3 separate regions of the Homo sapiens genome follow, and all the other regions are linked to region 3. The links come from fine-mapping of genetic effects on gene expression. A gene starts in region 3. Each other region holds a variant in brackets. All regions are shown on one strand. Distances are from middle to middle.

What was found. PIP is the estimated chance that this variant, and not a neighbour inherited with it, causes the effect.
Region 1: its variant is fine-mapped to the expression of COG2 in sun-exposed skin (GTEx, PIP above 0.99).
Region 2: its variant is fine-mapped to the expression of COG2 in whole blood (TOPMed, PIP above 0.99). The same link has a PIP of 0.9 or more in thyroid.

What each region holds. Positions count from the first base shown.
Region 1 is chr1:230,676,729-230,684,728 of GRCh38, reverse strand. It overlaps COG2 (component of oligomeric golgi complex 2), which reads right to left. Exons shown (of 18, transcript NM_007357.3): 10 at 5,677-5,816; 11 at 1,094-1,155. Among named protein-coding and RNA genes, the nearest start is that of AGT, 33 kb to the left of the region's middle. The variant A/C (reference allele first, on the strand shown) is at 4,994.
Region 2 is chr1:230,665,092-230,673,091 of GRCh38, reverse strand. It overlaps COG2 (component of oligomeric golgi complex 2), which reads right to left. Exons shown (of 18, transcript NM_007357.3): 6 at 4,308-4,416; 7 at 3,557-3,736; 8 at 1,452-1,576. Among named protein-coding and RNA genes, the nearest start is that of COG2, 27 kb to the right of the region's middle. The variant A/T (reference allele first, on the strand shown) is at 4,804.
Region 3 is chr1:230,639,115-230,647,402 of GRCh38, reverse strand. COG2 (component of oligomeric golgi complex 2) reads right to left here and starts at 4,922. Exons shown (of 18, transcript NM_007357.3): 1 at 4,725-4,922. The coding sequence starts at 4,796. LOC124904545 (a long non-coding RNA gene) reads left to right here and starts at 6,706. Exons shown (of 2, transcript XR_007066935.1): 1 at 6,706-7,109; 2 at 7,286-8,288. RefSeq lists silencers at 3,256-3,375, 4,989-5,128 and an enhancer at 4,679-4,898.

The DNA of each region.
Region 1 (8,000 bases), 37 kb before region 3:
TTGTCCTATTTCACAAGAGTCTTCCTCTATCTCAACATACTTCTTATTTTTATAGAAGAAGTTAACTACATATGACCATTTTTGGCAAAGACAGATGAAAACTAACTCTGAGGCTAAAATTGATTCAAAATGACAGTAGACTTAGCTGTATAAAAGAGAGTGGAAATTTAAGTTGAGGAACCTAGATATCAGCACACAGTATTTCAGTGGTCACTAGGAATAAATATATGATACAAAAATTAATGAGGCTGAAAGGGTATGTCAACATGTACTGGTAAGTCCACATACCTACAACTGTTACCTGCCCAACATCCTAGGATGGGCGGCCAGGGCACAGGAGGCCCAGGATGCATGCTCCAGCTGTGAGTCATTCTCAGTGAGACGCAGGAGCACCTGACCCTCTACCATGCAGACCAGTCCTCAGCCTGGGAGGAAGGCAGATCACAGCCAATTTGCTAAAAAAAACCAGCTGTTCACATAAGCACACCAAGGGGCCATATCCCCTGGACAAGTTATATTCAGGAATGAAAATGAGGTCTGTTTCCTATATTCTTATTCATTTTTCATCTCTATAAAGCAAGAACTCTATACACCAAAACTATTTGGTTTATTTTTACCTTATTAAAAAAAGAAGTCAGGCTGGGTGTGGTGGCTCATGCCTGTAATCCCAGCACTCTGGAAGGCCAAGGGGGGGTGAATCACTTGAGGTCAGAGTTCGAGACCAGCCTGGCCAACATGGTGAAACCCTGTCTCTGCTAAAAATAAAAAAATTAACTAGGCGTGGTGGTGTACACCTGTAATCCCAGCTACTTTCGAGGCTAAGCCAGGAGAATAGCTTGAACCTGGGAGGCGGGGGCTGCAGTGAGCCAAGATCATGCCATTGCACTCCAGCCTGGGCAACACAGCGAGACTCCATCTCAAAAAAAAAGCAAAAAAAAGAAGTCAAACTAAGTGATTTTTAAGGTCCAACTTACTGTATGATTAAAAAAAAAAAACAGTAAAAGTACGCTCAGAATACTGCAATCCAGATGACTTGGTGAACTGAATGAACTCATTTAGGATACCATGCCACTTATCACTTTAAGGGAGTTACCTGGGGCATCTTCCAGGACATCTGTAAGTGCTGCTTCTAAGGATCCCGCTATTTCTCTAAATCTGAGATAAAAACAAGAAGAAGAATTAATGTTTATGACTCTGACAGATGCCTTTCCCTATCCATTCTCTGTTTTTCCTAAGTAACAGGAACTTCCTCTGTCACTCACTGGTAAGTCCAGCCTCGGAATGCCTATTCTCCCAGGCTTTTTTTTTTTTTTTTTTTTAACTGAACAAGAAATCGTGACTAAGCCACTGTTATATAAGGGTTCTCTGTTATTTGCAGCTGGTCTGAATCATAACTTACCCCATGTTTCTCAAATTAAACAAACTGCCAGTTAAGTCTCCATCAAGAAGTTGTTGCTGGTGAGCAGCACCTGATTATGATCCTCTATTCACTTCAAGGCCATAAAACTTTGGTTCCTCCAACCCATCTATCTTAACACCATCACAGGAAGGTAAACGTCCCCAAGCTAAGAAAGCTGCATTCTGTACCTGTGTTGGCAGCTTGAGAAAAATCACAGGAAGTGGCCAGTTAAAACTAGAACTCACTGCTTGGTGCTCTTCTAATCTGTGACCCTCTCCCACGTCCATGGTACTTGCCCTTCGGGTTCTACGGCTGTCTGTACCAGCGCTTCCTAGATGTGCGTTCTTTTTTCCCTGATGACAGCTGGCTCACCTGGCACCTCAGCTCATCCTGTCACAGACTTCTGTTCTAATAATGGATATGGACATGTTTTTATGACTTTGTGAAAGGCAAATGTGTTATATAGTTTTTTTAAGCTAGCTGCTTTTGCAGGCATTGTTTTCTAACTATATAACTCTTGCAATTTCATATATCTCTTTACTAGCATGCTCTTTTGTCACCTGCTAATTGCCTTACTAGTAATGAATTCTGATGCATGCTCAATATCAATTTATCCAACTGATATTAAATTATTTTTTATAGTACATAATGTGCTTTTACAAAGCGGTTCACAGACTGAGCTAAAGGCAACTGTCTGAAGAGTAAAAAGAACAGCTTGAGACAAAAAGCAGCAGCCCTACCCAACACAGCTGAGCACTGAAGACACTAAGGCTATCCTGTACCATTGTAGCTGGCTGGTTTCCAGTAGCTGTCCCGTCTGCCCCATGGAAGGAAAGGAACTCTAATTGCCCAGTGAAGCTTACAAAAGGCTAGTCTTTTCAAGCTGCAGTTGAGAGGTACAGAAGGAACAAGTGACAGATGGAAAAGTGGGATAAGAGAGCACTGGAAACTAGCCCAGGAACAGCAGTAAGAGGAGGCAGTGACACTGAGCACGGGAACAAGGGAGATGGGATTGCTCTGCACCTGGGAGAGCAAACCAGCACCTAGAGCTCAATCTCAGACCCCCAAGTCCTGCCTTTTTTCAAAATCTAAACAAAATATAGGAAGTTAGCCCTGATACAGAAAAGGCCTGATAGCTGGCACAGCACTGTTTATATCAGGGAAAAACTGGAAGCAACCTAAATGGCCAAAAGAAGGAATATGCTTATGGAACCTGAGATATATTCAATGGACTAGTATGCAGTATTAATGTGGAAGCTTGATGCTATTTTCCAATAAGGAAAAATAGGTATAATTTAGTACTATCCAAAGACATGGGACACAAAGTTTTATGTATATTTATGATAATTCTGAAAAGCATAGAAATGAAAAAGGACCAAAGAAATGCAGCAGAGCCTTGATCCCTGCACTTCACAGAGACGTTCTGCCTGTCTGTGAGCAGGGACAGTGATACATGATTACAACTGCCTGAGTCACTTGGCCTAGGTGTGCTCCCCAGCCAGGGGACCAGCCCCTCACACAGCTCTGCTGTGCAGTCACTTCCAGGAATGAAGCAACAGATCATATTTCTTCTTGGAAAATGGCCAAAAGTGAGAGGGAACCTCTGCTGAAATCTGAAAAGCCATGCTGTGGTTTTCATGTGCACATCGAATGTCATTCTACTCTCAACAGGATCCATGTAAGAAGGGCAACCCCAAATACAAACATTTCTAAATTCTTAAATATAGGCCTGGGGAAGGTCTCTAGACATATTCCTCCACGAACATCACAGGTCTACAATAATACTTAAATAAAAATAACAATGGCGATAATAATAGTGATGCCTATTGTTTTTTTTCTCTGAAGTATTGGAAACATCATTAAGTGCACCCGTCTCTTGTGGATACACATGTCTGAGAGGAGTGCAGGAACAGGAAAGGGCTACTTGCACCTTAATACTACTATGTAGATTCCACATCATAAGACTGTGTTCAGCATATACTATGTAATACAGTATATACATGTGAATGTACTATAAAGATTTCAATTTTAAAAAGAACAGCAAACTGAAATTTAGGCTTTAGCATTTAAAGAGCTAACACCTGCAGTTTCCAGGCAGCCACTGACTCATTATAATTTGGGGCTGTTTTGATCACATCTGCATTTAATTTCTTCCTATGAGATACTAAGTCCTCATCTACTTTCCAATATGCCTGTAGGTGCAAATGAAATGTAGACACAGTGGGGTCTCAGGAAGAGTGAGAGGATACAAAATGTGTTCACAAGAATTGTGGTGGTGGCTGGGGTGGGGAGGTGGCCTTTTTCCTGAAGGTGATTGGGATGTGGGTATATAGTCAGATCCAGGAGCAGAAAACTATTACTGAGAGTAATATTTCTTCTTAGGAAATGTCCAACCATCACACCCCACTGTCTTTAGGTTTACTTCAAATGACCTTGAAATGAATCTGATGACAATGCAACTCTGACCCTAATCATGTTTGCGGAACTTTTTGTCATCCTTCAGAGCAAACAACTCAACACCTGATAAAAATCAATAGAAAAGTTCTACAAAGTCTTAATGGAATTTACTTTTTAGATGGAAAAACAAATGTACTAAAGACAAGTTCTACACTTCCGTAACTCAAACGTGTTTTTTTAAAATTTCATGAATTTTAAATAAAAGAGGTTTTTTAAAAAAGGCTAATCAGCTCCTTTGAAGGCTTAAGGCTGAAATCTGGTGAAGGTAAAAAAGACTTTCAGGGAACTGGCTGAGTTTCAATGTAGTTTAAGGTCCAATTACCAGCTTTGAGAGAAACTGAAATGGAAGGGAGATGCAGCTGAAGCCAAGCTGGGCCGTCACCAAGGGGCCCAGCCTGGCAGAGCCAAGAGCATGGGCTGAAATAGCCCATGGGAGCTCCAGGAGGTGCAGGGGTGGGATGGAAGAGTGAGGTGATGCTGCATGGGTCCCAGGGTCTGAGGAAAAGGACCAGGAAAGTTTGGAGGCAGGAAGCAGAGGAGTATGTTTGTGAGGTGACAGCATTAGATAACTAAAGCAATCTAACTCCAAACCTGGACGACAAAAAGAGATGGGGAAATGTAAACATTATTTCTACATAGCAGTATCATTTTATAAAATGATGCTTTGCTATTTTAAATCCTGCTCACAAATCAAAAAGGTTTCTTGCCCTGGCTTGATGTTGATTATCATATACCAACTATTTCCAGTGCATCCCATTAATATCTTAGATGAACAAATCCGTAATTTCCTGCTGAGAGACCAACTACATGATGATGCAACCTTGGAAAATTTAGCATAAAACACAGTATTGTAAGTGAAAGGGCACCTTACTACTTCATTCTGAGAACTGTGATTTCATTATAAAAAGATCATTACATACATTCTCAATCATCTCAAGCAATTATCATCAGGGTACCTAATTCTTGATTTCCCTCTCTGTAATTATTCCTCAGAACGCTAGGGGAAAGGACTGCATCATAATTAATGAAAGCATCCAGCAATTTAAATAAAAAAGCCTATGATTCTTCAAAGAGCATTTCAAGTAAAATCCATTCTACGGAAGAACATACCATGACCTCATTCAAGAGAATCTGCAA[A/C]AATGACTCTTATCATGTTTTTCCAATGCAGTGTATGATAAGGGTTCATCCTAAATTTCCCCCAAGTATTTTATAGAATGGCTTATTGACAAAGGTGATATCATCATGAAACCTGGAAGAAAAATGTCACCATTTTCCTGAATAGAGGGTACAAATGTCACAAAGACGATCAGGGAGGCTGAAATAATGACCAGGCTTCTCATAAACTAATAGATGGAACCAGCTGCAAAGAACACTTAAAGCTCTGCTTCTCCCCATTCCCTCTAGGGGAAAAGTATCTCAGACGAGCAAAAACAGATGTGAGACAGGTTCATTATTTGAGGCAGACGATGAAATAGGGAAAATGGAAAAAAAGAGCTGCTGTATAACTCCTACTTTCTCTTTTCACAATGAATGAGGACATGGTGGGTGGGAATGAGGCTGGGCTTGGAGTCAGCTCCTTCCAACTCTTGTGTTCTGAGCTCTCCAATTACCAAAAAAGAAAACTTATCTTTTTGTCATGCAAGCCAGACTTTGGCAACCATAATACTTCTTATATCTCTTTCTCCACTTTCAATTTTGTCTCCCAAAGCTTATTATGATGATCAGAGAAAAGGAGCCGCTAACTGAGGCAACATCCTTAACTGGCATTCCAATTCTGTTTTAGAAGGGTGCGGGGCGGGGGCGGTGAATAGATGACCAACCTTATTTGAAAATAAACAGGCAAGTTCCACTTCTTATTGAAGCTGTGATAGGCAGGATGGGCTCTTAATCTCTTTACACTAGCCTGTGATCCACACTGCCGTTCCAATCTTCTGACAAAATCCATACTTATGGTATATTTCTAAAATAAAACAAAAGGAAAATTTTCATTATTAGAACACTAACTAGAACAGGGAGCATGTACTGAAAACTGTAATCAAGATAAAGAAGCTCAACACGTAAGAATCACAGTTTCTAGAGTTAACAAGGAACTTACAAGATCTTTCTTCCAATGTCCCCATTTAAAGATACATAAATGCCCAAAGTGGTTCTGTGATATGTCTTCCGTGTCTTCCATGGCAAAGCCCATCTGAGACCCAGGCACTCTAAGTCTGGTGCTCTTTAAATGGCAGTGCTCATGTTCTAGGGCCCCCTACCCCAGCCCACTGGAATTAGAATTGACAGCAGATTAAATGACATAGTTCGTCATTGCCTCACAAAGGAGAAAGAAGGAGAAAATTCTGAAGAAGAAAGAGAGAGAAGAGAAAGAATCAAACCATGTGAGTATTCACTTCATTTTTATAAATAAGATAGCATGAAAACTGACAGGGAGATGTACCAAAACCATTAAGAGTGGCAGCTAACTCGTAGCATTTATCATCGACACACTGTGATTAGAATTGTCTTATTTAATTTAACCCACAAAACGACCCCACAGGGCAACTACCATCATCATCATCATCATCATCCCCATTTTACAAATGATGCTTCTTCTTCTGTTGAGGCTCACAGAGAACCTGCTCAAAAGACAAGCCAGGCGGTAGAGGAAGCAGAATGCTAGTCAGTCAGTTGACCAAAACTGCGGCTGCATGTTGCTTTTGTGGGTACTTTATTCCCGAAGCCCCCAGGCTCTAAGAACACTGTTGAATTTTTTATGTTCTTCTCAATTAAAAGGGGCTCAATCCAGGGTCATCAAACCATTAATCTAAATATGCTAAAGTCTGTGCTTAGAAAGGATCTTACAGTAGTAAAAACTACAGGCTTTAAATTTATTTCAAATGGTTTTGGGCAAACTTATGTTATCCCAGAGGGTGGTCTAGGTGTGTGGAGTTGAGACAAAAATAGGGATTATTCTTCCCTTTTGGGACAAAACTATACCTCTGCATATAATGGATGCTAAAACAAATATAAAGATATTGCCCTCTTACAAGAAACACATTACATTAAGGCTTAAAGCTGAAAGTATTTCTGGAAATAAATGGATACTATCTGCTGGAAACTATACTCACAAATGTTAAGTATTAGCCTAAAATTCTAAAGTCAAGTTCTATCAGAAAGGTTCATTTCTGAGCTGAAACATTTCCTGAGTCAAACATGGTCAATACGAGTCTCTAAAGCACACAGCAAATTGTAAAGCGTCTTCACATTTGCTAGTGCTTAAAGCTTACAATTGCTTCTGCTTAAAGCCATTATTTCACTCTCCTTATGCTATCTTATTTAAAAAGCCCTACTTTTTAAAATTACAAATGTTGCTATAAAATTTATTGAAAATGGCACAATCCTGTTATTCAATGCACTGTAACATGGGACAATCAGCCAACAGATAAGGTAAGTTGCATTTCTGGAATGGTAAACCTCCCAATGTGTTGTCTTATCTGTGGGAAACCTGCTGGGCCCCAGGCTGTCTGTTTATGCTTATCTTGTGCCTCTCTACACTTAAAAAATTAATAAACAAATTCGCCAGGGAGGCTAGACAAACAACAAATATGACTTCTAGAAATAAAAAAATATGATAATTAACCAGAAACTCAATGTGCAGGTGGAAAAGAGTTTAGACACAACTAAAGAAGGAATTAGTGACCTAGAAGACAGACTGTGAAATTATCGAGAATGCAGCAAATACAGAGGATAGGGTGAGCCTGTCTAAACAAGAGATCTAGATGGAGATGATAGAGGAATGAAAGAAAAGCACAATTGAAGAAATAATATATAAAAATGTTCCAGAATGGATGAAAGATACCAATTCTCAGATTCAGAAAACCTATCAAATCCTAAGGATAATAATAAAAAAAGAAGTTCTACTGGACATATCATAGCAGAACTTACTTAGCACACCAAAGTCACACAGAAGATCTTAAAAGCAGCCAGAGAAAAAAGGCATTAACTACAAAGAAATAACAATTAAATTAACGGCTAACTTAATAATGCAACTCAAAAGACAACACTCAAAGTGCTGAGAATTCTGTTAATACATCCAGCAAACTGACCTTACAAACAGAAGCAATACAGTTATTTTCAGACAAACACAAACTGAGAAATTATTAAA
Region 2 (8,000 bases), 26 kb before region 3:
TATCCCCAAATCCAACTAAATCCTTATGATTACTAAACAAAAGTAGCAAAACTAGACTTCATCTTAGGTGGTACAGAGGAAACAGAGAGGGTACTGCAAAGGCCAAGCAGCATATTAATTACCCCATATTTCTGCAAAGAACAAAAACTCAAGGCCAAATACATTGCTTGCTCCATGAAAACAGAGACCTTATTTGCCTTTCGATCATTAAACATAGTTAATTCTTTCATTTTGCAAGCACTAACTGGGCAGCTGCTAGCTCTAAGACACTGTGTCAAGAGGCAGGGGAAGGTGTGAGCAGCGGAGAGGTGATCATAATGCAACATGGAAATCAGTACTCAGCAGACCCAAGAGCAACACATCCTGCAATCCAGAGGACATGATGAATGCTGAACATTAGGAGAAAAAATGGCCTTTTTTTTTTTTTAAGATGGGGTTTTGTCATGTTGCCCAGGCTGGTCTTGAACTCCTGGCCTCAAGCGATTCACCTGCCTTGGCCTCCCAAAGTGCTGGGATCACAGGTGTGAGCCACTACGCCCGGTCAAGGATGGTCTCTTGAAGGAGGTGGTATCTGAGCTGGAGCTTCATGTGGAGAGGCAGTTTGACAGGAAAACAAAGGGCACAGGAAGGGGAGGGCAGGCAGAGGAAAAACGCAGAAGCACGTGAGTACAAGGGAGCTGGGGAAAGGCAGCTAGCACTGTGTGGCTGGAGCATCCAGGGCTATGGAGGGAAAGTTTCTACAGTGGAGAGCTACCAGGCAAGAACAAAAAGGGCCTCATGCCCTGCTTCGAGAAGCCTGGATCTTCCTCCATGCGCACTGAGAAGCCACTAAAGATTCATGAAGAAATCTATGAATCTCAGATTTCTGGGTAAATGTGACAGTCAGAAGCCTAGACTAGAGAGGGAGAGACTGGAAGCAGGGAGACAGGGTGGGAAGATTCTATTATTGTGGACAGCAGATGACAAGGCCTGGACTGGGACAATGGCAATGGTGAAAAGTAATGGGATATTTATGAAAGAGAATCAGGAAGTCATGGAAACTGAACAAAAGGAGGAAAAATTGAAGATGAGTTCACAATTAGTATAAAACCTGTTGAAATAAACTGAATTAATATTTATAGACAGATTATGACATATTAGAATCATGGAAGGAAAGCAATTCTGACTTCAAACTAAATTTAGGAAAAAGTGCAGAGAAGAAGAAAGGCTAGGCTTTGGATTCGGAAATGTGGTCTTCAGTCTCAGCTTCATCTCAGTTTCCACAACTTTGAAATGAGGCTAATGGAATCTGCCTCACAGTATCACCAGTAGAAACAATGAAATAACAAGATTCATAATGGATTCATACAAGACAGTTCATACAAGACAGTCATCGTCCATCGTGCACCTGCAATTAGCAGGTGCGGTCACTGAAAGGGAGGTGGGGGTCCACACAGGGTTGTTTAAATTACCTGGAGATGGCACCTCCTGTGACTTCTCGAAGAAGGCGGCAATGGTGAGGAACAAACTCCAGGAGTTTATTATACATGACCTGAAGGCCATTGGGATGAGATTCAACAAACTGCTCTATAATCACCTATTAAAAGAAAAATCATTTTTTAAAAAAGCATTTAAAAGGGAAGTACAAACGATCTATTTCAGAGAAAACAATAAAGAAAACTTTACAAATCTGCTTCCTCACACTCACCCTCCTCCCTGTGACACATTTTCTAAACAGTGAAGTAAATAACAGGTCACATTCAAAACTACTTCCTTGGATTAGGCTGTACAGATACAACTGTGGGGGAGACATGGGCTGACAAACCATGCACTCTCATCTGCTTCCCTGGGAGTCTGAAAATAAAATAACAACTTTTAAAAAAAGATTTAAAGCAGAGCACATGATTCGCCACCACAACTCCTCACTGTCTTCATCCTGGCCTTTTTTTCTACCATCATTCAGATTAGGGAAGGGTTTGAGGCAGAGAAAGACAGAAGAAAATATATTAGTTCATTATTTTATTTTTTGTGATAAAATTGGGAGACAAGAATGATATGACAAGATAAGCTGAGTTTAAATAAAACACAATGTGGCTACTGAATTTAATATGCCACTGAAAGTTCAAATAGTTCTTTAATTTAGCACACTAGATTCAGTTCCGTGAAAAAGGAATAGATTAGTGACTAAAATATTTTCATCGGTTGGGCGCAGTGGATCACGCCTGTAATCCCAGCACTTTGGGAGACCAAGGCAGGCAGATCACTTGCGCTCAGGAGTTCAAGATTAGTTTGGACAACATGGCAAAACCTCATCTCTACAAAAAAAACATTAGCCAGGCATGGTGGTGTGTACCTGTAGTTCCAGCTAATTGGGAGGCTGAGGTAGGAGGACTGCTTGAGCCCAGGAGGTTGAGGCTACAGTGAGCCATGATCATGCCTCTGCACCCCAGCCTGCGTGACAGAGTGAGACCCTGTCCCCCAAAGCACAAAAAAATTTTTTCACTTATTGACAAAGAAATAATGTATGTAATTTTTTCACCCCCATAGAGACAGCTATGGAATATAACATGATATAAACAGAGAGAACTGAAATATCATTTATTTTTAGTAATCTTAACAAGGCCAAAATAATTATTAAAATGAGTCCCTACATTTCATTTTTATCATTGGGAGTCTCAACTTTCCACTTTAAAAAATAAAAGACTTTCACCCTGAAATCATGTGAGTATAATCTTTGTATTTACTAACAGTCAGAACATTCATACTGACAGGACACTGGAGGAAAGTCCCCAAACACCGAGGACGGGCTCAGTGACTTCTCTCAGTTTGAAGCAGACAAAGCTGCTGTTTTTGTATGTCAGAAACTGTTGAATATCAGCAACTTTATATGGCACAATCTATACTCTGGCTGCTCAGAAGTGGGATATACTTGTTTCCTACATTTTAACTATATCCTACTAGGTGAAGGATACTGCATAGCCAAGTTCTAGATTTAAGGTATTACTTGGCTAATTTGCTATAAAAGCCCTTGATCTTTGAATATTCCTCCTCTCACCTTCCTCGTCCAGCAAACTCCTCTGTATTTTTCAAGACTTGGGCCAAATGTCATTTATTCCCTGAAGACTTGAGGGTACCACTGTCTACCCCACTCACACACCTTTCCACACTCACAGCACTCCCTGCACCTTCCTCGTACACTGCAGTGTTGTCACTGCTTAATTGCCTTAGTCCACCCACAAGACCAGTGATTTGAAAACATTCTTTTAACAATTACTGAGGAACCATCGCCTCCCATAAAATTGACCTAAAAGCACGTGGATGCCCTTGAATCTCGCCCTTGAAGCCTGAGCCGCAGCATTCCTAGGACACCTGAGACGGCACGCCCAATTCCTGGCATCGTAACATTACTTCCCAACTATAACCCATGGAGACCAATCCTTCCTTATAGCTGGTACTGTAGGAACTGAGAATCTTTCCAGAAAGATCTCTGTTCTCTCTTCTTATCTTCCTCACACCCAGTAAAGAGTCAAAGACAGAACAGAAGCTCATGAATGTTTGTTGAAGGAGGTACACAGACCTCGTCTATGTATGGTTTCACTAGTACTTGGCCAACTAAGGCCTCCGCGTCCCGTGTCTTGTCAATCGTGGCGTAAGTCCGCAAGCAGTGCCGTATTATATCGACGTCAGACGTCTGAAGGCCTTCTAATAGGAGACCTTCCAGTGACTGCTGTAACATGGCTGTAATGCCAGCTATACGCTGCAAGAAAAGGTGGGTAAATAAAAAAAAAGCTCTAGTTGTAACAGTTTCTGAAACTGCAAGTAGATATATAACAAGCCTCTTACACCAACAGATAATGACATATATAAAATCAAAATAATAACTTTTCCTGGAGAATAACAATGAACCCCTCACTCCAATCACTTTATAAGTAAATCTCTGCTTCATCAAAGAAGAATTTAGACAGAATTACAGAATGAGAAAAAAGTTACCTTCCTCTTAAGCTACGAAGTCAATCTTGAGGAAACATCATGGATTTAAAATCCAATTAAGGGCTTTGGATAAATTAATTGTCTACATCATATAAGATGTCCAATTCCATGAAATTCAGAATTAATTTTACTCTTATCATCTGGAGAATGTGACTGAGTCTTTACACAAAATCTATAATGTGTGACACTTAGGAAGCTGGCGCCCAAAAAATTAAAAATTGAAAAAAAATGCAAGGTTAGCTTCAAAACCCTGTAGATCAACAATATTACTAGTTTAAACCAGAATTATTTAGCAAGTCCCTAAACACCAAACTGTGGAAATCCAAAACAACACTTACCGGTCTTACTTTGTCCAAAAGAGGCATGCCTTTGCTTTGAACAGCATGAAACTGTAACTGATTAAATTCTGTGGCAATTCTCTCCAAAATTTGTCCAGTCAAAAGGGGGCTAGTAGAGAAAACAGTTATAGAAGTGTAACCCCTAAGGTCTCTATTTCCACGAGAATACATCACACGCCTGGCAGTGAGAGACTTTCATACCCACTGTATTTTGACTTTTGTCAGAGTGTTTTATGTGGCCACCTTGTTACAAGGTGAAAGCTAAAGCGTCTTTTGTGCCATCAGTCAATGTTCCCCAGACGCCATATGCACAGCATGTTCTAAGTGCACCGGGGAATCTGTTGAGTACAAGCTGCTGATGCTGCCTGGCCTTGACCCACAGGGACCAGACAGCAGCAGGGCTGGCTAGGCCTGTGGACATGCAATTATGTGTTTCTGCCACCGACTCCAAGCTCTCCCATTCATGACCTTCTTTTTCAGCTTTAACCTCCCTTCT[A/T]TTTCCCTCTTCCCCCTCTCCCCTTTCCCCTTCTCCCTCCTTATCTTTTCTTTTTCTTTCCATCTCATTTCTTATAGCTGGATCCTTTCTACTTCTCTGCCTGCCTCACTCTCCTTGCTAAAATACCTCTAGATATTTCTAAAATACCAAATATATTTGTCTCCTCAATGAATGAAACTGACTCTCCAGCAGCAATAAATATCTCAAAATATCTTATTTTAAATTTAAATAGTAATAACTTACTTTAAAATTACATTTACCAAACAGCAAGAGCAGTCAACCTACATGCTGTGGGTCCTAGTGAGAGGGCATTCTTTACGTACCTGGCACAAAATATAATAAATGCACTTTTTCCCCCCAAACATATTATAAAATGTCAATATCACTCAAAAGGAAGTAAAATAGCAGAGGAGAAGTATAAAGGCATAATCACTTGCTGTGTATACTGAGGCATCCTGTGTACACTGATGGCTCATCACCAGTTAGGGAGGAAAAATGTCCCTATCATGAGGACATATAAAATGCTGCACTGAGACCATCAGTGGTCCACCCAGTTCTGTATTTGTAGCATCCAAACTAGTTTAGAGGAACAGGAACTGCCCAGTGTGACCAACCAAAAAGGGAAACTCTGTCTTGAATATCCCTAACTGTTTCCTGAATAATCTCGTGTGAATTAATTATTTATAAATTATCTAAATGTTTCTTGGCTTAACAAGCATGGTATATCTACTATTCAGTAATATTGCCCTGGTTTTACCTTCACTACAGCTCAAATTTGCAGATCTGAATTTAAGAAAAGCTCCTCAAAGACGATTCGGAGCAAGGAAGAGTGCAGTGTCTATTATACTGAATATAACATACTGAATATAATATAATACAATAATATAAGAGTATCTCTAGAAACAGACATCACTGAGGTCATCAGAAAAGCTCCTCAAAGATGATTCGGAGCAAGGAAGACTGCAGTGTCTATTATACTGAATATAACATACTGAATATAATATAATACAATAATATAAGAGTATGTCTAGAAACAGACATCACTGAGGTCATCAGAAGCCCGTTCCCCACTAGTGGGAGACGTTTGGTTATCTTTTCTTAGGTACCTACTAGTTCCAGACACTGTGGTGTAAAGATGTCAGGGGCCTTATAGACTGAGAAGGCATGCAAGCCAATCAACAGTTCCAGTCTCACCGTTAAGTTGTCTAGGGGATGACCCGGAGGCCCGATGAATGCATGGAGATGGAGCATCTAAATCTGAAAGGTCAGGGAAGACTTGCTAAAAGAGGTGGTCTTGTAATTGAGCTTTATGGAAGGGAACTCTTGTAGTGTCTTGTTTGTACTTTCTCTCACAGAACTGAGTGAGACAGTTTTAAAGAAAGCAGAAGGGATCAACAGTATCCCACACAAAAGAGAAGAATAAATTTTACAAAACAAATCCATATCGTTTTATAACCTGCTTTTTTTCCACTTAGCACAGTATTTTTAAACTTTCTATACTTTAAGCATGTTTTGAGCTAGATTTGGATGGAATAAAGAGAAATCGGGCAGGTGAAAGGGAGGTGGAAGTTAAAGGAAGGGCTTTTAGTACAACAAATGGCCATACATAGTAAAATTAAGGAAGCGTAAGTCAGCAATGTTCAGGGCAGTCAGGGAACCAAAAGTAGTTCTGAATAGCTTTAGTGAAGAATACAGAAGTGGCAAGGAGCAGCTTGGGAGTTTAAGATTTACCTTAAAAACACTAGGAAACCATTGTTTCCCAATCACATAGTAAGATGTGATTAGACAAATCTAAAAGATCCATTTGGCAGCTAGGGTTAGTTGTCCTAGAGAAAATGAGAGGTCAGTCAGGAGGCCACTGCCTGAAACGAGGCAATGGGAGAACTGAGAGGGGGAGGCAGACATCTCTCAATCTCAGAGACACTAGAGCAGCAGAGTCTCCAGGGCTTGCCTAGTGAACGCCAGAAGGAGATGAAGTTTAAAAAAGGAGAAAATGACTCCCCCAAGATGTCTAGCCTCGTTAGTGAAGGAAATAAAGGCACCGTTTCCTAAGACAAGGAATAAAAGGGAGGAGTAAAATGTTTTTGCTGGTGGAGAGAGGCAGGGAAAGAAGATGAGAGCTCAGTTTTCAACATGATGAATGTGAAGTGCCTGGAGAACGTCCACTAAACTCCCCGCAGTCAGCAGACTGATGAGTCTGAGGACTACAGAAGTTCGTCTGCAGATAAAGAGATCAGCATCCAGGAGGCCATTAAAACCATGGGGTTGGATGAGGTTACCCAGAAAGTGCTGATCAAGAGCACAGTCCCAAGAACAGTGCCCTGGAGAAAGCTGGCATGAAAAAGGGCAGTGGAGTCCATCAAAGGAACAGAGTAGGAATGGGGAAGGAGGAAAAGAAAATGAGGAGGCAGGTATCACAGATGCCAAGTGAGGACATAGTTGGGAGGGGCTGTCAATGCTGTTGAGTGGAAGACAGAAGCAGAGCAGTTAGTGGAACAGGGCTCTGCTGGGCTCTCAGAACTGACACTGATGGGGACTCTGATGAGCGCAGATGAAGGGGAACAGAACGGACAGAAGCAGAAGTACTACAGGCTGAAGAAAAAAGATGGCAGCGATTGACCACTTATTTATACATCTCGATCAGGAAAGAAAGTAGAGACCTAGGACATGAGAATAATTTCCTTTTCGGATGCCTCATCTCCTCATCTATAAAATGAGAGAAACACAGCATACTGTCTCTACAGTCTCTCCAAATCTAAAATTCTGATTCCTAAAATTAAGAAATCCAACTTGTCTTGATAATACGATCAGGACTTTGAACTGCAGGTATATTCCATTTGGTCCTGGTTGGTTTTCCTGTAGCTTATCCCATATTAGTCAAGGAAAAGTATGATGGCTATCAATGTGACTTTCAGAGATGCTTGTGTTAGGCTCAAACTAGACATGTATGAGGGTCTAGTCTATGGCTACCAATCCTGCAAGTGGAGTTCCTATTAGCCTTATATGAGAGATGACAACACCAAGACACAGAGTGAAGTAACCTGACTCAGGCTACCCAGCTGGTACATGCAACATAAGCCCATGCTCTTTCCACTGCACCATGGAGTTTCCCATTAATGTTCATAATGATCCATTCAATTCATTTTCTGAGTCACTCAACTACCTGACTGATTTTAAATTCAGTGTGGGAAGGTAAT
Region 3 (8,288 bases):
TCTTGGACACACCTCCTGTTTCAATATTCCCTATTTACACACTTAGAATACAGATGAGCCTCAGAACTACAGTAAGGGGTCCCCTTATCTGAGGGAGATATATTCCAAGACCCCCAGTCAATGCCTGAAACCACAGATAGTACCCAACTCTATATACGCTATGTTTTTTCAATCAGATAACCAAGATAGCTACTAATCAATAGAAACTGTCCATCAGTGCAATAAGCTGCTCTGGAATACTTCCAAGTGTTCTGGAAAATGCTTTCTCATGTTTTCATGGTGTATACAGGTGGCAGTCTGATTACATACAAGCACCTGTTACATACAAGCACCGAGATGCGTTTTGAAAAGGGCACCCTGCCTGTGATGTAGAACACGGACTAGAAAAAGGCAAGAATGGATGCCAGGGGACTACAGTAAGAAGCCACTAGATTATAATGGCCAGAGATAATGATGAGTCAGAAAGTGGGAAAAGAGGAGATGGAGAGAAGTAGACAAATTTCAGAGATATTTGGGAAGTGAAATCCTAAGGCTTAGTAACAGGTTGGATTTCAAGAATGTGAAGGAGAGAGGTGTTATCAAGGATGACTCCTTGATAACATCTGACTCACAACCAGATGGATGGATTACCTCAGGTCTAGTATTACCTGAGATAGGTAATACCAGAAGAGAGCCAAGTTTGAGAGAAGGTTGGTTTTTTTCATCTTCCCCCAACAAATTCAGTTTTAAATATGCCGAGTTTGAGGTGCCACAGAGATAGCCAAGAAGAGATGTCAAGGCGCTGTGCACATGGGGTTGCAGATAAGAAGGTATTTGGGCCAGAAGTATGAACCTTTCACCTGTCTACACGTGGTCATTGAAGCTGCATGAAGTGGGTCACCTGCGGAAAGTGCACAGCATGTGAAAAGGAACAGACACGTGGCTGAGTCCATAACCCACCAATTAATGGCTAGGAGGAGAATGATTATGCAAAAGAGACAAGGAGACCAGAGAGGCCAAAAGATAACCAGAAAGCACCAGGTTTCAGAAAGCAAATGAAGGGAGCATTTGATCTACTGAGGTCAGGGAAGGAAGCAGAGAAGGTCTGGTGGATCGACTTCCATCTAGTTAACTTTGGTGAGAAGTCTTTAGTGGAATGATGGGGCCAGAAACCAGAGTGAAGTGAATTTAAGAGTGAAGGGAGAGAAAGTAAAGACAACATTTGGCTGTGAGCATTTGGCTGTGAGATGGAAGAGAGCGATGGGCTTTAACTGGAGGTTGGAGGGTCCAGTAGAAGAAACTAAAATAGGAGTGTGTCTGAAAGCCAATGGGAAGAAGTGTGGAGAGGGTGGGAATAACAGGGTCCTGAGAAGGGAGAGGGCACCGGATCCAGGCATGGGAGGCAGACCTCAGGAGGAAGGAAAGACCCCTACACCAGCGTCCCCAACTACCTGTGGGGAACCGGGTGGCCCAGCAGGAGGAGCGCAGCCTGTATTCACAGCCACTCTGTATTGGAGCTCCGCCTCCTGTCAGATCAGTGGCAGCACTAGATTCTCATAGGAGCATGGACCCTACTGTGAACTGCACATGCGAGGGATCTAGGTTAGGCACTCCTTATGAAAACCTAATGCTGAATGATCTGTCAGTGTCTCCCATCACCCCCCAGACAGGACTGTCTAGTTGCAAGAAAACAAGGTCAGAGCTCCCACTGATTCTACATTACGGTGAATTTTATAACTATTTCATTATGTATTACAATGTAATAATTATAGAAATAAAGTGTACAATAAATGTAATGCGCTTGAATCACCCCAAAACCATCCCCTGCACTCCTGGTCCATGGAAAAATTGTCTTCCAAAAGTGTCAAAAAGGTTGGGGACCATTGCCCTACACAACAGGTTAATGATGGGAGTGAGAACAGGTACAAATGCAAGAACGAGGTTGCTGTCAGCAAGATGAAGGAGCTACCGCTTGATGGCCTCTATTTTTTCTGTAAAACACATGAAGTCATACGTGAGACAGAAGGATATGATTGCCACAGCATACCTAGGTTAAGTGGGTTTAAGTTATCCCTGTTAGCCTACCACCTCTCTCCTACTACCAGTATCTTACATCCTAATTCATCTACTGATTGTCAACCCTCTCTAAGAGTGTTTGTACATTTTCTTTTTTTTTTTTTTTTTTTTTTTGACAGGGTCTCTTTCTGTTGCCCAGGCTGAAGTGCAGTGCTGCAATCCTGGCTCACTGCAGCCTTGACCTCCACAGGCTCAGGTAATCCTCCCACCTCAGCCTCCCAAGTAGCTGGGACTACAGGTATGTGCCACCACACCTGGCTAATTTTTCAATATTTTGTAGAAATGCATTCTCACTATGTTGCTCAGTGTGTATATTTTATTAAGCTGACGAAGTCAACAGTATCATGCCATTACCACCTTTGACCCCTCAAGTGATTCGTTCATCTGCCACTCCTGCTTTTTGATCATTTACGTAATATTTTCCACAAACTATCCCCTCCTGTATTTCTCAGATCTCATAAAAACCACTGAAATAACTTTTTAAGTAGCCTCCCGCCACCAGTCAGTTCCAACTGCAACATACATGATCATGTCATTTCCTGCTTTTAACCTGACTGTAACTCCACAATGAATACTAAATCAAGTGCAAATCCGTCAGTACAGTATACAAGGCCCATTGAAACCTGCACACAGCAGGTGATCATGGAATGCCCACTGACTGAACAATTGCTACCACTGCACTAGCATGCCCTCATGATCTATGGCAACCTAAACACAGTTTCCCATCAACACCAGAAGAGACGTAATACCAGAAGAGAGGTAATAACAGAAGAGAGTGGATTTCAAGCAACTTTAAATCTGGATTTTCAAGCAATCTCAAATCTCCCAATGCAAATGTCATATCCCAACTTTCTCACACGTACAAAACCTATCCAATTACAAAATGTGCTGAATGAGACACAAACATAGAAATATAGCCTGGACAAGTGTTCCAACCATCCTTTCTGCCATGGAAGTGCAACTTATATGTAGTTTTATATGTTTAAGGCAACACAAATTGCAAATAACCTTTATCTTCAAGCTCCACCTAAAAAATCAACAAAATTTTACACAGAACAGCTGTTCTATGTATTTTCTTCTATGTATGTTGTCACTTTTATAAGCACTACAAAATGTACCGCATATTCACAGAGCCACGAAATATGCAATTGCTGGCATTCCAGCCACCACCCCAGTTTGCACTCTAAGTTCTATTTTAGAACTTGTATTTCTGTGATTTCACTTCCTGAAGCTGCATTTACCAAAGGCATTCTGTCAACTCAGAGTGGGAAAGGTGGTGGGGCTAGTGAGTCAGAGAAGATGCTGGTGTTGAGCCTTAAGAAGTCAAGAGATGGACAAACTGAGATTATTCTGTACTCTGAGATTCTTGACGTCAACAAGGCCCCTGATCTCCGTGTATGGCCTTTCCTCTTCCAGGGCACCTCTCCCCAGCATGTACCCTTAGCTGTTTCTTTCTACCCTCATTTCAGGGTAGCTCTTAGCCAGTAGGCAAAACGAAGGGTTTCTGGATCAATGAGTTGATTCTGTACATTCTTTGAGACATCCTAATGAAGTTACACCTTTTAGTACAGTGGTCTAATAGGAATATCACTTACAAGAATAAGGTACATTATTCCTGGGTATAGATAAGTCCTACATACGAAAAATGATATGGTCACACTGGAGAAGATACAGATCTACTTTAAAAAAAAACAGCTTTGGAGATGTAATCTGAATGCAAATATTATCAAAAAGAGATAGGCTAATTAATCTAGAAAACATTATGTCACCAAGAAAGGCAGAGTAAGATTTCAACTCACTTGCTCAAAATTGTAGATGTCTACTAACCAGCTAAAACTTTTCGCTTTTTAACACTGAAAGCAGCTACTAAAAGGTGTCAAAAATCCTAGTCCTCAGGAAATTAAATAGAAACATTTTTTGAATGGCTTAAGTGCAGACCCAGAGGGATACACCAAGTAGGAGCAAAGCTCCTCCCAGCTCTCACTCAAAGCCTGGCCATTTTCAAGGCTGTGCCTGATGAACTTTATCATCAGTGAAGTGTTTTCAGTTTATATTTCTTTTCTCTAAGTTTATGACCTACAACTACCAACTTCTTCAAATGCATCACGTAAAAAGTAGAGCAACTTCTTTAAAGAGTAATGGTTTGCTTTGTCGTACTGCAATAGTCGGTAAGAATGTTCTAAGCTTCTAAATATCCCATTCTGGAAGCTTTAGCTGAATGTTAAGCAAAACTTCAGATTAAGTTCTTTTTCTTTCCGACCCGAGTCCCTAGGAAAGTACGTGGGCTTGGAGATTTATTCAACACACACTTAATGAGCTCCAAGGCCCCGGTCCACAAGCTTCTTTCCGACAAGGGGACTGGCAATCTGACTGCACTGCATGGTAACAGGAACGGGTAACAGTGGCTTTGACATGCAGCTCAAAACCACTTGCCCAGAACTTTCAGGCCTTTCCATGTAACACGCACGATTTTACAGAAGTGCTTTCTCCAGGCTGCACCCGCCAAACCTGACGCCAAAAGACTCATTGCGAAGTGCAGCGAGGTCTCGGCGGAGGACCTGACACTGAGCGTGCGCAGGCAGGAGCAGCCGACCGAAGAGACCGCCACAGAGGGCACAGGGCAGAGGCACCCTCATGGCCCGGCTCCGGGGAGCGGACGCCGCGCGCACCTTCATGAACTCGTCCTTGTCGAAGCAGAGCGTGTCCGGCCCCTTGGGCAGGTTCATCCTACTTTTCTCCATCCCGCCGGCCACCGCCTCTCAGTGCCAAGATCCAAGCGAGAAAACGCAGGAGGCTGCGCAGACCGACTCGGCGGCCGCGGCCACCGCCAGTTTCCACGGCACAGGGGGGTCCGCTTCCGCCAACATGGCAGCGCCCGCGCCGCGGCCAATGAACGACGGCACCGCAAGCCGGCCTGCGCCTGGCTCTGGCCAAGAGGGGCGCGGGGGCCGCCGCTGCTGCACGGGTAGGCCGTGCTGCCCTCATGTGGCGGAGGGCGGTACTGCAGCCTCGCGCGGGCTCCTGCAAGGCTGCCCACCTCCCTAGGAGGCGTGGCTGAGCTGCAGGGGTGGGTCAAAAGGGGTGAGCGGGTCTCCCTCCCACCCCCACCGTTTCTACTGGGAAAAATTGTCCTACAACGCTTTTCCAGTGCCTTCTACCCTGAGACTGCTCTGCTTCGTTATGCATGGCCAGAAGTTGGCCCTTTGGTTCTCAGGCCCGTTTTCCAGGTTGGACGTATCACCGTGGTCGCATTCTTCACCTCCCTGTGCGCGGTCACTGCCGCTGGTGGGCGCTAACGCCTCTATGGAGACCCCCGCCCTTAGCCTCTGTCCCCACAGAGAAGTGTAGCGTCTCCTCCACTGGGCTCCGTTACTGGGAACTCATAGGGAAGAAGGTGGTCAGCTAGGCGGCTTTGGGTCCTCTGAGTAGCTCCCTGCTCAACCTCGGTCTCCGTTCCAGGTGGGCAGCCTCTGAGCGCAACTTTGGGTCTTCAAGGTGCTTAAAGGAGTGCCTCGCTATCTGATTAAACACAGCAGACAAATACATGTGCATGCACATTTATTTTTAATTTCAACCAGGAATGGACAAATTTTTGTGTTGTGGCCAGTACTGGTGCAACCAAACCAATTTCTTAGACTGTCTTCCTCCTCCTCCCCCCACCCACCCCAATTTTATTCTGAGACGTTCTTCCTTTATCTCCTCCCTTGCTTTTTTCTCCTCTTGTCCCTTCCGCTAGCTGTAAATACCGTGGTCAAATGATGATGATTCATTTTTCTTCTTTTCTCCTTGACATTCGGATGATTCAAACCACAAACCTCACTTCACACTCTTCATTCTGCAAACCTTTCCTTCCCGCTTCTGTTGAGGAATCTAGGCCTCTCTTCCCAATTTTTCTCCTTGGAGATAAGATTAACGCCATGATGGCCTGTAAAAAGGAATGGGACAGCAGAGGGTAAGACCTCACCATGAGACTTTGTATTTCAAGTATCTCAACTAGAAAACTGGTCACTTAAAAAAAAATGTAGGCGTAGAATCCAAAACGCTCTACTCCCTAGCACTGGACCTAGCAGGCCCTGTTGAAGAGCCTATTTCCTGCCAGTATCTACAGAACAGATGAACAGGATAAGAGCCGGAAGCTAGCTGGAGGATCAAAATATTCTGCCAGAGGAGCGATTGGGAAAAGTACATCCTAAGTCCCTGTTATGTTTGTTTTGCTGGAGGAAATGAAAACCTCATTTTCTGTTTAATTTTTTGTTTTCTCTTGTTATGAAAATTTTCAAGTACACAGAAGTGTGGAGAGCACAAGAACCCCACCCTATGTACTTAGCACCTCGCTTCAACCATCATCAACCTGTCTCCTCTGCCCTTCCCCACCCACCGCATCGAGACCTTCTTTTTTTGTTGTTTTATATATATATATATATACATATATATATATATTTTTTTGAGACGGAGTTTCACTGTTGTTACACATGCTGGAGTGCAATGGCATGATCTCTGCTTACCGCAACCTCCACCTCCCAGGTTCAAGCGATTCTCCTGCCTCAGCCTCCCGAGTAGCTGGGATTACAGGCATGTGCCACCATGCCTGGCTAATTTTGTACTTTTAGTAGAGATGGTGTTTCTCCCTGTTGGTCAGGCTGGTCTCGAACCCCTGACCTCAGATGATCCACCCGCCTCAGCCTCCCAAAGTGCTAGGTTTACAGGCATGAACCACTGAGTCCAGCCCTTTTATTGGAATATGTTTTAAAGCAAATTCTAAACACCATATCATTTCCTATCCCCTAATACCTCAGTTTACGCATCAAAAGAAGAAAAAAAAACCCTGACATTTTGTAACACCTAACAAAACCAGCAATTCCAATAACCAATCTATAGTGGCTCTGAAAGGTGGGCCTTTATCCCAAGGTCACACTGTTAATAAGTGGCAAGTTGCAAACCCAGGCAGCCTGGCTTCAAAGCCCAGTACCAAGGCACGGGAGAGGATGCTGGACAGATGAAACAAAGATGTCTGCAACCCTGCCTTCTCTTTCGAGGCTCTGCAGGAAGTCTAGGTAAGCTGGAACTTGAACTCTTTCTTTCTTCACTGTAATTCCCTTCTGACATTGTTCCTGGGACTTTAGAAATAAAATGAACCTGAATTTGTACAGACTGGGCTTATCTTGAGGATGCTAAAGGGATTAAGTGGCAACAGCGATGGAGGGTCCCTGCTGCCTGCTGTCCTCCCTAGATTCAGAAGGGAACCATCAGGACCCCATGGAGTGGGCTGCGGCTTGGAGACACAGATAGTGGTGCAGACCACCACAGCCAGGCGCAACAAGAAAGACTTCAATGCTAGCATCATAATCTACAGAGGACAAACGCAAGAGAGAAAGCCTACACCTGCCCAGAGGACATGGCCCTGGGTTTCCACTCAGAGCTGATGTTCAACTGGCACACAGTATTTCAGCTGTGCTACTTGGTAAATATTGCAACATCTCAAAGGTTGGTGAATGGCCTCTGTACAGAATCTGCTGCTGCCCTGACCCCTACCTTGGCCTCATGATCCAGCCATTAGAGGGTTACTGCCTGGCTTAGCGGGGCTCCTCTAGCCAGCTTCTGATTGGCTAGTGTCTGTGCTGTTAAATATTTGTCTGCTGTTAAATATTTGAATGTCATCTCTGGTAGTGATACTTATTTCATAGTATTTGCAGGAAGAGAAAATTTAAAAGTGCATATAAAGCACCTGCCTAATCAATGCAAGACATAATATGGAGTCTTTTTACCTGAGTTTTTCCCCCTTTGTTGATCTGTAACTTTCTTCAAAATGAGACTTTAGTTGGCACATTTTTCCATCTTTTTCAGTCTCTCCCCTAATTTCATCCTTTCTTGGCTTTTCTTTATAAAGCATGCACCTGCTACTTCATTTCTAAGTAAATATTAATCCCCCTTTGACTTTGCATCTCTGGAAAATTTTTAGTTCCCTGTTTTCAGTGGCATTGTGAGAGGTCCCATTTTTTTCTTCCCACTCTCCCCTATTTATAGGCTCCACATTTTTGGCAGGTTTGCTATAGAACACTCAAAAATTGCAAGGGGAAATATTATGCTCAGGAAATCATAGGAGCATTTTCTCTAGTAATCATCACCAAGTTCTTATGCTGATCCTCTCCTGAACTGTTGGACTAAAGCAGCTGAATTTTCCAAAAGCAACCAGAGTCGCCCTTGTTCACTACTGAAGGATAGGAGGGTTTCCA